Regions from separate parts of the Homo sapiens genome. Here regions 1 and 2 are each linked to region 3. Evidence: fine-mapped expression QTL. A gene starts in region 3. Each other region holds a variant in brackets. All regions are shown on one strand. Distances are between the middles of the regions.

Region 1 (4,242 bases), 39 kb after region 3:
AGTGCTGGGATTACAGGCGTGAGCCACCGCGCCCGGCCTTCTCTTGCCTGATTAGCTAGAACTTTCAGTAGTATGTTGAATAAGAATGGTGAAAGTGGGTATTCTTGTCTTGTTCCAGTTCTTAGAGAAAAAGCTTTTTCCTGTTCAATATCATGTTAGTTGTTGATTTGTCATATATAGACATTGTATTGGGGTGTGTTCCTTCTGTATCATATTTGTTTAGAGTTTTTATCATGAAGAAATGTTGAATTTTATCAGATGTTTTTTCTGTGTTTATTGAGATGATCATATGGGTTGTTTTTCATTCTGTTGATGTGATATATCACATTTATTGATTTGCATATGTTGATCCATTCCTGTATGATGGATATCAGCCTGTAGTTTTCTTTGGTGTGTGTGTGTGTGTGTATGTGTGTGTCCTTTTCTGGTTTTGGTATCAGTGTAATGCTGACTTCGTAGAATGAGTTAGTAAAGATTTTTTTCTCATCAGTTTTTTGAAATAGTTGGAGAAGAATTGCATCAGTTTTTCCTTAAAATTTGGTAGAATTGAACAGTGAAGCCATTCAGTCCTGAGTTCTTTGATGGGATTTCTTTTTTAGAAAATAGAGACAGGATCTTGCTCTGTCATCCAGGCTGGAATGCAGTGGCATGATTGTAGCTCCTGGCAGCCTTGAACTTCTGGGCTCAAGCGATCCTCCCACTTCAGCCTTGATGGAAAACTTTTAATTACTGCTTTGATCTCATTACTTATTGTCAGTCTGTTCTAGCTTCCTGTTTCATCATGGTTAAATTTTGGAAGCTTACATGTGTCCAAAAATCTATCCATTTCTTCTAGGCCTTTCAATTTGTTGGCATGTAGTTGTTCATAATAGTCTCCAATGATCATTTGTAGTTCTATGGTATCAGTTGTAATGTCTCTTTTTTGTTTCTGTTTTTATTTACTTGGTTCTTCTATTTCTTTTCTTTTTTTTTTAGAGATGGGGTCTCACTGTCGTTCTGGAGTGTAGTGGTTCAATCATCTCTCACTGCAGCCTTGAACCCCTAGGCTCAAAGGATCCTCCCACCTCAGCCTCCTGAATAGCTGGGACTAGAGGCATGAGCCACTATGTCTTGCTGATTAAAAATTGTTTTTGCAAAGTTGGATGTCTCACTTTACTGCCTAAGCTGGTCTTGAAATCCTGGCTTCAAGCAATCCTTTCACTTTGGCCTCCCAAAATGCTGGGATTACAGGCATGAGTCAATATGCCCAGTCTCTTTTCTTTCTTAGTTACTCTAGAAAATGGCTTGTTGATTTTGTTATTTCAAAAAAATAAATGTTTTATTTTGTTGTATTGTTTGTTTTTGTCTCTATTTTGTTTAGTTCTACTCTGATCCTTATTATTTATTTCCTACTACTCATATTTGGATTGGTTGGTTCTTCCTTTTCTAGTTCCTTGCGGTGAATTGTTAGATTGTTTAATTGAAATCTTTTTACTTTTTTGATGTGTTTTTACAGATTCCAAAAATTTTTTTTATGTTGATTTCTAGTTTTATTCCTTTGTGATCTGAGAAGATACTTGATATGGTTTTGATTTTTAAAAAGTATTGAGTTTTTTTTTTTTGTGGCCTAACCTGTGGTCTATCCTGGAGAATGTTCTATGTGCTGAGAAGAATGTGTATTTTGCAGATGTTGGATAAAAAGTTCTGTTAATGTCTGTTAGGTGCATTTGGTCTATGGTGTAGTTTAGATCTGATTTTTTTTTGTTGACTTTCTGCTTAATCTTTACAGTGATGAAAGTGAAGTTTATTTTGCCACAGTTGAGGATGCATACCCATGACACAGCCTCAGGAGGTCCTGACAACATGTGCCCAAGGTGGCACAGTTTGGTTTTATACATTTTAGGGAGACATGAGACATCATTCAGCATATGTAAGATGAAACATTGGTTTGGTCTGAAAAGGCGGGACATCTCAAATCAGGGAGGGACCCTCCAGGTCATAGGCAGATAAGAGACAAATGGTTGCATTCTTTTGAGTTTCTGATTAGCCTCTTAAAAGGAGGCAATCTGATATGCATTTATCTCAGTGAGCAGAGGGTGACTTTGAATTGAATGGAAGGCAGGTTTGCCCTAAGCAGTTCTCAGCTTTACTTTTCTCTTTAGCTTAGTGATTTTGCAGCCTCAAGATTTATTTTCCTTTCACATTTTCTCCTTTTTATTTCTCAAAATCTTTTGGAGAAAGCATATTAGAAGAAAATTAGTCTTTGTCCTCAGGTTTTATCTGATCTCTCATGGCTAGGATGGTTTATTCCTAGATGGGTAGGTCCTGAGTTATTAGGAAAATTCATTTTTGGCAGATTGTGAAGTCTCATGTTCTATGAAGGGAAAATAGGGAGAGAAAGGGAGAAAAGCAACAATAACAAAAGAACAATCCTGGAGAATTGATATAGACCACATTACTCTGAAGTCTATATGTTAGTAGGCAGGTATGAAAGTGGGTTATGTATGTAAATAGGTTGCTGTTATTTTCTTCTAAAGTTTAA[G/C]TTGTCTAGCTTCAGTTCACAGGGCTTTATGAAAGTACAGCTTAGTTTTCAATGACTCCAAATTAGGAAAAATGGGGGAAAAAGAAGAAAAAAAACTGAAAACATTTTGAAGACTTATAGCCCAGAAACATTAGAATTCAGTCCTAATTGTAGAAAATAATAAAAATGGAAAAACATTAGGCAAGACTAGACTCTAACAACAGTTGTACTATAGTTTTTGAAATAGAATTTTTCTCTCTCCAGTTTCCCACTTTTACTAAAGACAAATCATGGTAGGATTAATTTGCTTTATTATACTTGGCCTAATTATGTGTATAAAGTGCAGAAAGAATAATTTTTTTACACAGGCTTTTAAATTGGCTTTGATGGAACTTTGTTCTATAGAAGGAGTCTCAAATAAGACTTTTTTAAAGCCAAGCCCAGCCATGGGTTTGTAGCATCAAGTACCTATGAGTTGGGTGAATTCTTTTACTCTTGAGATTCCAAGATAAACTTGGGGCTCCTGGGCCTGTCAGAAAGTGACATGCTTTACTTACCACACATCAGGAATCCTGTACAGGGACTGTGTAGACAAGGTATGAGGCCAGTTTTCCCAAGTAGCTTTTATTGGCTCCATAAGTCAAGTTTGATTCCTTAAAGGAAAGCACACCATTCCAGCCAAAGCCTTCATAAAATAACCAGTTTCCCTTATTGTGCCCTGTTATAAATAAAAACAGATTCTTATTGAACTTATGCAAATAACTGTATTGACATGAGTTAAAGATACTCACAAATAGTTTTCAAATTCTGGATAAATCAGGTAGAGAGAAACAAATATATTCTAAATTTTGTTCATAGGAGTATATTAAATTGTTAAAAGCTGTCAGTAGCTCAAAAGAAAAGTTTATTTGCCACCGAAAAAACAAAACAAAGAATCAGAAACATTTTAAGCATAAGTGAAAAAGATTACTTTAGTCTTCTATTAGTTCACCCCATGTAGTTAATTCCTGTTCTGCTTGATAGTCATGAACATTTCAGTTCTCCATAAGTCCTAAAAGTTTTTCTTCTATTCCAATGTCACAATATCCAAAGTTATCAGAAACTTGTATTCAAGAGTACCTGTTAGAATTTTATAGCTGATTAGAAAACTACCTTTTAAAGAGGACCAAAACAAGACAATTGTCCATGGATGACAAAATGTTTTAGGGCAACCATAGTCAAAGACTATAGTCATAGTCATAGTCAATAGACAGGGAAAGTTGTTACCTTTGTGGCACATGATAATTTAACATAATTATAATTATTACTAATAATGTACACTAATTCATATGAGAATTACAGGAGTTTCCCATAATTTTGGAATACATACCAATAACATATTTCTACAAACATAGGCCAAAGAAATTTAAACACCATTTTATATTTGACAATGTTTCATATATTTTATTTATATATATAATGCTTATATAATATATATATAATATATATATATACAAAACGTTTATTCCAAATAAGCAAATTATGTCATTTTTGAACTTTAAGGAACCTAATATCTTAAAGGATTAAGTCAGAAAAAGACATAATTTATATCTTTATTTTGGAAAGTTTGTCAAATATCAAAGATTTAAAACATTTGACATTACAGGTCATTGTAAAATAAGTCATTCATTTGACCAAAGTGATAACTCAAGGATTTCAAAAAAAGGTGAAAATCTTCATTCTTTGAGAGAGGAGACTCAATT
Region 2 (4,242 bases), 38 kb before region 3:
GGCCAGGCTCAACAAATTCTCCCACTTCAGCCTTTTGAGTGGCTGGGATTACAGGCATGTGCCACCATGTCTGGTTAATTTTTCTTGTATTTTTTTGTAGAGATGGGTTTTCACCAAGTGGCTGAAGCTGGTCTCAAATTCCTGGGCTCAAGCAATCCTCCCGCCTTGGCCTCTCAAAGTGCTGGGATTACAGGTGTGAGTCACTGCACCTGACCCCTAAGCAAATTTGGAAATTAGTAGAATCTGTAAGACAAAAGGCAAAAGAAACTGTTCATAAGCACTGAACTCCAGTAAATAAAGTTGTTTCCCATGGAGGTAACAATTCTGATACTGCTATACATGTATGCTAGAATTCAACAATTAAGTAAATGGATGGCAGATAGTGAAAGCCAGGTTACAGATAAACAAGGGGAGGGGGCTAGAAGGACTCACATGTTAATGGATTAAAATTGGAGACAGTGGTATGAATTAATGTTTAGCTTAATATGGATAGAGAGTTACATATACAAATATTTATAAATATGTGTATACATAAGTGTTAATGCACACTCATATATCTCCTTGATCAGTAAGCTGAGAGGGTTTAGACGCAATGACACCCTGGTATCAGTAAAGCAGAGTCACTCATCAGTGAAACTCCAGACTTTGACATGCAGCTTCTGATACATTGGCTACTCCTGGGGTATAGGATGTAGAACTTAACATATGCCCCCACAGAAGACCCCTTGTCACATTCTGTTTTCTCCTCCACCTTCCCCAGCAAGCTCTCTGCCCTTAAAGCCAGTCACATGTAGTGACCTTCTATGCCCATTGCTTTACAAGGGAAACTCCTGCTTAGATACCTGGTCATTAGCTTACAGAGAAATTCTGGGAAAAGGCAGTGAGAAAGGCCCTCTCACCAACTCACACAGTGCCACCCTAATAGGAGAAGGGGACCACTCAATGAGAGTTTCTTTACTCATTTTCCCTGAAGCAACCATTGTAGCAGCTGTCACAGAACAAAGAAGTCTCAGGTTTGCTGATGCAGAAAACTTCTAATAGTATTTAAGTAACGTTTTCTAACATCTACCAATTAAAGTTAGAGGAAATCTTAGGGTGAAGTTTTTGCAGGCTACCCATCATAAACATTCTGCAAAGAGCTCCAAACTATTGATTTTTAAAAAAATTTGTAATAATATTCCAAAGTCCAAAATGTGTAGGGTAGACCAGCAGTTTGGAAACCCAAGTAAGAGACAGTTTGTTGAGAGAGTTTCCTGTATATGTAATGTTTTTCAATAAATTTAGGAAGTTTTTAGTCATTATTTCTTTGAATATTTTTTGCTGCTTCTTTCTCTTCCTTCTCTCTCTCTTTTTTTCTTTTGGGACTTCCCCCCTGTTGCTCTGTTCATTTTTATATCCTTTATTCTGCCAGTTATTAAGATTGTAAAATCTCTATCAGTCAATCTTCAAGTTTGTTCTTTCTTCTGCAAATTCAAGTCCAATGTTGAACTCTGCTAAATTTTTTATTTCAGCTATTGTACTTTTCAACTCCAGAATTTACATTTAAAAAATAATTTCTATCTATTGATATTCTCTATCTGATGTGATATTATCATCATACCTTCCTTTAGTTGTTTAATCAAGTTTCCTTTAGTTCTTTGAACTACTTTGAAGACTTTTTTTTTTTTTTTTGAGATGGAGTTTCGCAATCTTTTCCCAAGCTGGAGTACAATGGTGTGATCTCGGCTTACCACAACCTCTGCCTCCTGGGTTCAAGCAATTCTCCTGCTTCAGTCTCCTGAGTAGCTGGGATTACAGGCATGGGCCACCACGCCTGGCTAAATTTTGTATTTTTAATAGAGACGGGGTTTCTTCATGTTGGCCAGACTGTTCTCGAACTCCTGACCTCAGGTGATCCACTCTCCTTGGCCCCCCAAAGTGTTGGGATTACAGGTGTGAGCCATGAAACTTTGTTAAATCTGACATCTGGTAACTTGTGAAGGTGAATTTTATGTGTCAACTTAGGCCACACGGTATCCAAATATTTTGTCAAATATTATTCTAGAAATTTCTGTGAAGTTATATATTGGATGAGACTAATATTTAAATCTGTAGACTGAGTACAGCAGATTACCCATTATGATATG[G/T]GTGGGCCTCCTCAAATCAGTGGAAAGCCTTTATAGAAAAAGACTAACCTCCTTGGAAGAAGGAAGACTTTTGCCAGAAGACTGCCTTTGGACTCAAATTACAAGTCTTCCCTGGATTTTCAGCCCTGCCAGCCTACTCTGCACATTTGAACTTGCCAAGCCCCCACAACTGCATGAAGAAATCCTTTAAAATGAACCTCTCTCTCTCTCTCTCTCTCTCTCTCTCTGTCTCTAAACATCCTGTTGATTCTGTTTTCCTGGACAATCCTGACTAATATATCATTCATAGAGGCAGTTTCTGTTTCCTGATTTTTCTTTAGTTTATGGGCCATATTTTCTGTTTCTTTGCATGTCTCATAACGTTTGTTGGAAACTGGACATTTTAGATCACGTACTGAAGCAACTCCGGGTGTGCCCGCCACCTCAGGTGGGCTTGTTATTGTTATTTGCCTGCTTATTTGTGTAGTGATTAGCTGGATTATTTTCCTGAAGCCTATTCTCCCACTACCACACTCATTCTTCCCCACCCCCTGCAGTGGGAAGCCTCTAAGCCTCTAATGTTGCTCCTCACAGGACACAACCTTTGGTATGCCCACAGTCATTGTGGGATGATGGTGGTTTTGGCAGATTTCTTTTTGACTATCTATTCCTGAACTTACTCAGCTGTTAAGCTCTCTAATTGCAGGCTGATTGCTCAGCTGTTTTCAACAATGCTCTGGGCATCCATTGCCCTATAGGCTTAGCTAATCAAATTCAGGCTCCTTTGTAGGGACAGTTACCAAAGTCACTGAAACATGTTCTGACTCCAGGAGGGCTCTTTGTAGTTGTCTGGTGTCTTGTTTCTCTCTGGCAAACCAGCCGGCCTACAGTTTAGCCTATATTTCTGTCTTAGTCAGCTTGGTGTGCTATTACAAAATATTATAAACTAGGTGGCTTATAGACAAAAGAAATTTATTTCTCACGGTTCTGGACACTGAAAGTCCAAGATCAGGATGCCAGCATGGTCAGGTTCTGGTGAAGGCCCTCTTCAGGTTGCAGACTGTTGACTTCTCATTGTATCTTCACATGGTGGAAAGAAGGTGAGAGAGCTCTCTGGGGTCCCTTTTATAAGGTCACTAATTCCATTCATGAGGGCTCCACCCTCATGATCTAATGACCTTCCGAAGGCCCCATCTCCTAATATCATCACATTGGGGGTTATAATTTCAACATATGAATTTTGGGGGAACACAAGCATTCAGTCCATAGCAATCGTCAATGAATCTACTAATTGCTTCCCAATCGCCTTTCACCGCAACCGCCACTGTTTTATTCCCCCTATATTTAGAGGACTCTTAGACTTGAACTTCAGACTCAGTTATAAGTGAGGTCTGTTCCTTTGAGTAGAAAGCTGGAGCTCTCTGTTCTATGCCTGCTTCTGCCCCTGGGTAAAATCTCTGAGCCATGGCTCTGGAGAAAATGGCATGCTTCTCCTGAGTGACGCCTCTACTTTAGGAGCTGAGCACTTGGTAGAATGGTGTGCAGCAGCCCTAGAATTTCTCAGGTTGGCCTTTATTGGCATGGGACTGCTGCCAGTGAACTAGGGCAGTGGTGATTGGGGCCTCAGTATTTGCAGTATGTGCAGTATTCTCAAGGTCGAGCCTGTATCCCATGACTAGGAGAGGCAAGGAAGAAGGGAGTCTTCACTTGTCAGCCATACTCACCTGGAATTTATTATCTTCAGTAGGAAGAAACTGGGGGTAGGATGAGACATGCTAACTTTCTGCTCCAGAAAGTGTGAAAGTTATCAGAATCAAAACAAGTCCCTTGTTAACAAAGCTCCGACAAAAAGAGCCAGAAAAGGCCGTGAACAGAGGGTTCTCACGCACGAATGCCTGATAACAGGAACTATCACAAAAAGCTCTGCAAAAACCACAGCCTTGCACAAAGACCATCACAGCCTTACACAAAAATATAATTCTGCGAGGACATCTGCCCAGCAACTGCTTGTCCAACCTCAGACTGGCACCACCTTTATTATTTGATTCTTATAGCCAAGGACAGTTATCTCAAAACAATTATGTAATCCTCCTTATTTTTCCTTTAAAAACCACTGTCTTCTGTTACCTCCCTGAAT
Region 3 (4,242 bases):
GTTAAAATCATACGTGCTATTAATAATAATTCCCACATGGTTAGACGTCCTCAGGACATTATTGATAGATAGATGGCCTTGGAAAAACACAGAGGAATGGGGTGATGATTCCAGGAGTAAATAAATCATCAGGAGGCATTTCTTCAGGGCCTGATGATTCCATTTTAAAGACAAAGAGCTCTGGCCCAACAAGTGCGGTTAATAAGTAACTTATGTGATGTGAGGGACAAAGTCTGGATTCAGACTCAGATCTTTGTGGTCGCTTTGGGTCCATTTGCCTGAGTATCTGGTGCCTTCTGAGAGGAATTAACATTGATCAGCCCGATTTTCTCATGCCAGTACTCAGCCTGACACCAGAGCTGTTATCTCAGAGGCAGTGTTCATGAGCTCTTTGGATCCTCCATCGGTGGCTCAGGGAGGCCACATTCCTGAAACCCGCAAGCCCACACACACCCCATTGGATATTACTGTGCCACTTCTCTTGTTGTGCCCTGCCAGGTGACTGACTAATGTGTGCTGGGAAACAATATGGTTCTGTTAGGGAGGAAGCTGCTTTTTTTTTTTTTTAGGAAAATGCTGTGATAAGCAGCCTGAAGGCAGATGGTGAGGAGAGGAGAGAATAAGAGATGGCCAGAGTCTCTGCTTATAAAAATAACTCAGATTTTGTCTTCTCCATGAGACCTACTACAACCTCCTCATTGAAAGTGGAAGCCTGCACCTGCTCACCCCCTAGCATGGTTGATGACTTATCCTACTCTTTGTCTTTTTGCCAGAGCAGTCACCACATTCTGACTTTCCCTGTGATTTGCTTATTTACCACTTTAATTTATGTTGTCTGTAGTCCTCTCTAGACTACACTCCAGGAGGGCAAAGGTCTTTGTCTTTTTGCTCACAAATACCTCCCGGTTTCCTACAGTAGGCCTAAGACAGGGAGGGTGCTCAAAAAATGTTTGTTGAATGAATGCATGAGTTTGGGGAAGGAAGAGAGAGCTGAGACACAGGTAGCGTAGCCATCCCCAAGGGGTATTTTCAAGAGCAGGGAACTGCAAGGTTTAAATGCAGGCTGGGGGATACTGGTATGATGTGTGCCCCTCAACCTCTGCATCCTCGGCTGAGTGGGCTCCTCCCACTCCCCACCGTGTGTGTATAAAGTGTCAGCACAGTGGAAAGATGAGGAGGGAAGATAACTCAAGTCCACACTCAAAACCAGGAGCACCCATGGCACAGTGTGAGGAGACTGGGAGAGTGTGAGGGTTAATATTGAGTGTCAACATGATTGGATTGAAAAGTATTGCAAAGTATTGTTCCTGGATGTGTCTGTGAGGGTGTTGCCAAAGGAGATTAACACTCGAGTCCGTGGACTGGCAGAGGCAGAGCCACCCTCAGTCTGGGTGGGCACCATCTGATCAGCTGCCAGCTCTGCTAGAATATAAAGCAGGCAGAAAAATGTCAAAAGGCTAGACTGGCCTAGCCTCCCAGCCTACATCTGGGTGGACATCATCTAATCAACTGCCAACACAGCTAGGATAAAAGCAGGCAGCAGAACGAGGAAGGACCAGACTGGCTGAGTCTCCCAGTCTCCATCTTTCTCCCATGCTGGATGCTTCCTTCCCTCAAACATCGGACTCCAAGTTCTTCGGCTTTGGGACTCTTGGGCCTACACCAGTGGTTTGCCAGGGGCTCTCAGGCCATCAGCCACAGACTGAAGGCTGCACTTTTGAGGTTTTGGGACTCAGACTGGCTTCCTTGGTCTTCAGGTCACAGACAGCCTATTGTGGGACTTCACCCTGTGATCATGTGAGTCAATACTCCTTAATGAACTCCCCTTCATACATATATAAACTCACCTTCTCTAGAGGACAGAGAACCTGACTAATACAGAGAGGCCTCAGTTGACCTGACCTGGGCTGTTACCAGTAGCTGCTCAGATCACTTGGCCAGAAAGACTCTCTCGATGGCTGCTGTGGGCTCTCACCCAGTGTGCAGAGCACACTGCAGGCAGGGGCTTCACGTCATGGTCCCTCTACCACACTATGAGGCTGCACAGTGAGTTTACACTCATCTTGGTTGGAGGACCCTCAAATCTAACAAGGTTAAGACACTTGCCTGTGGGAAACTGAGGCCCTTTCCTGAGTTGCACAGACCCCACATAGTCTGATTCGGAGCTCTGAGTTCTGACTGTGCCCCGGCTGTGTGCCCATGAGCATATCTCTTATGGCTCTCTTTCTGTGCTTTGGTTTTCTCATCTATAAATGGGCTAATCATGGTGACTGTTAGCAGGTTGTTAGGTGCTTGTCATTAGCAGGTCATGGAATTGACTTAGAAGGCCACAGACAATGCTGGAAGATACCTTACTCCTGTTTACATTTTGCCAAAGGCAGGCCTTGACCAAAGTTGTTCCCAATTCCTAGAGGTCTCAGAGAGGGCACGAGCTGCACAGATGCCAAAGGGTTGGGCAGCCTGTAGCTCTATTGGGCAGGGCACAGTCTGAGAGCCAGAAGCCTTAGCCTGTCTGACCCAGAGGTCCCACCCCAGAAGACAGCTGTGCTTTTTGATTTTACAGCCACCTGCTATATAAGGCCTCTCCCATACCAGCCCTAAGCCTCTACTGGGAACCACCTTCTGTAGGACAGTCACCAGGCCAGATCCAGAAGGTGAGAGGACTGCGAGGCCGGGGCCTGAGCCCTGGGAGAAGCTGAAACCGCAGGAAGGGCATTCAGGACCAGCTCAGGTCCTTCCCCGGCCAAGTCCAGGACATTCTTGCGGCTCTTGCTCCTTTGGCATTGCCCTAGGCAGTCGTATGCTCAGGAGAGGGAAGTCTGGAGTTCAGGGAGGATGTGGGCTGGGGATGTAGTTTTCTTGTTGTTTTGCCATCTGCTACTGTGTGTGTGGTTTGTGTGTAGTGTGTGCGTGTTCTGTGCATCATTCTGTGTGTGACATTCTTCATTCTGTGTGGTTTTGTGTCCTCACAGCCTCTCTAGGCTCCAGCTTTCTCTGTGGAAGATGACAGCAATTATAGCAGGACCCTGCCAGGCTGTCGAAAAGATTCCGCAATAAAACTTTGCCAGTGGGAAGTACCTAGTGAAACGGCCTAAGATGCCACTTCTTCTCATGTCCCAGGTGGGGGCCCTGCCTTGAGCCCCAGCTTCACTGGTCCCTCTTACCCACAGAGGTGTTGAGCACGGCCCTGGGTCCTGCTATGGGGTCACTCCCAGGCTCTGTTTCTCTGCTAGGTGNCCCTGGGTCAAGTCCTGACCTCTCTGGGCCTCCATCAATTCTCCCTGAAAATGAGGCTAGTTTCAGGTCTTCACCATAGGCTGAGGTGATCTGTGCACTTGATGGGCTGCTGGGGTCTCCTTCTCATCTCATCTCATCCTCTCCTTTCCCCTCCTCCATCACACTGTAAGACCTGAGAGGCCCTTTCCCAGAAGGCCATGGCCCTGAAACTCTTTTCCCACTGAGGAGAAAAGCAAGCAGCTGGGGTTCCAGGCCTGGAGGGGTGCACCCGGGCATGTAGGGGTGCACCGGGCCTGGAGGGGTGAGGGGCTGGCGCACGTCTGCTACAAGCTCCAGACCAGATGTGCTTTATTTTCCTCCTTGGATCTCTAAATGGTGGGGTCATTGGCATCATGTATGGGCCTCTTCTCCCAGACCGACTGGTTTCCCTTCCTTTTTACCAATCTCTAATAAGTCAACCAGGGTATCAGGGTAGGGTGTGTGGTGTTTGTGTGTGGTTTGTGTATTGTGTATATGGTTTGTGTGCATGTAATGTTTGTGGCATGTGGTATAAATGGCATGTGGGGTGTGTGTGTGTGAGGGTGTGTGATGTGTATGTGTCTCTGTGTGTGGAGGCATATGGTGCATGTGTGGTGTGTGTGATGTGTGTGTGATATGGTGTGTGTGGGGTTTGTTTGACGTGTGTGAGGTGTGTGGTGTATTGTGTGTGTGTTTGATGTGTGTGACAGGTGATGTGTGGCATGTGATGTGTCGTGTGTGTGGTATGTGGTGTGGTGCGTATGTGGTGTCTGTGATGTGATTTGCATGTGTGTAGTATGTGTGATGTATTTAGCGCATGGTGTGTTGTGTGTGTGATGTGTGTGACTTATGTGTGGGGTGTGTGTTTAATGTGTGTGGTGTGTTGTATGTGGCATTTAATGTGTGTTGTGTGTGTTCGGTGTGTACCTAATGTGTGTGACATGTGATGTGTGGTGTGTGTGAAGTGTGTGTGGTGTGGTGTATGTG

Direction of the effects. Alleles are on the strand shown, and positions count from the first base shown. SD is a standard deviation of normalised expression in the study named. Not every link is listed here.
For the expression in whole blood of the gene that starts at base 2,600 in region 3, C is the low allele of the variant in region 1 and G is the other (moderate effect, 0.63 SD a copy in GTEx).

What was found. PIP is the estimated chance that this variant, and not a neighbour inherited with it, causes the effect. A credible set is the group of variants that fine-mapping cannot tell apart.
Region 1: its variant is the best candidate, but not a certain one, in a credible set for the expression of LYPD8 in whole blood (GTEx, PIP 0.70).
Region 2: its variant is the best candidate, but not a certain one, in a credible set for the expression of LYPD8 in whole blood (TOPMed, PIP 0.72).

What each region holds. Positions count from the first base shown.
Region 1 is chr1:248,715,541-248,719,782 of GRCh38, reverse strand. No RefSeq gene overlaps it. Among named protein-coding and RNA genes, the nearest start is that of OR14I1, 15 kb to the right of the region's middle. The variant G/C (reference allele first, on the strand shown) is at 2,522.
Region 2 is chr1:248,792,328-248,796,569 of GRCh38, reverse strand. No RefSeq gene overlaps it. Among named protein-coding and RNA genes, the nearest start is that of SH3BP5L, 31 kb to the left of the region's middle. RefSeq lists a silencer at 2,906-2,995. The variant G/T (reference allele first, on the strand shown) is at 2,127.
Region 3 is chr1:248,754,117-248,758,358 of GRCh38, reverse strand. LYPD8 (LY6/PLAUR domain containing 8) reads left to right here and starts at 2,600. Exons shown (of 7, transcript NM_001085474.2): 1 at 2,600-2,654; 2 at 2,973-3,120.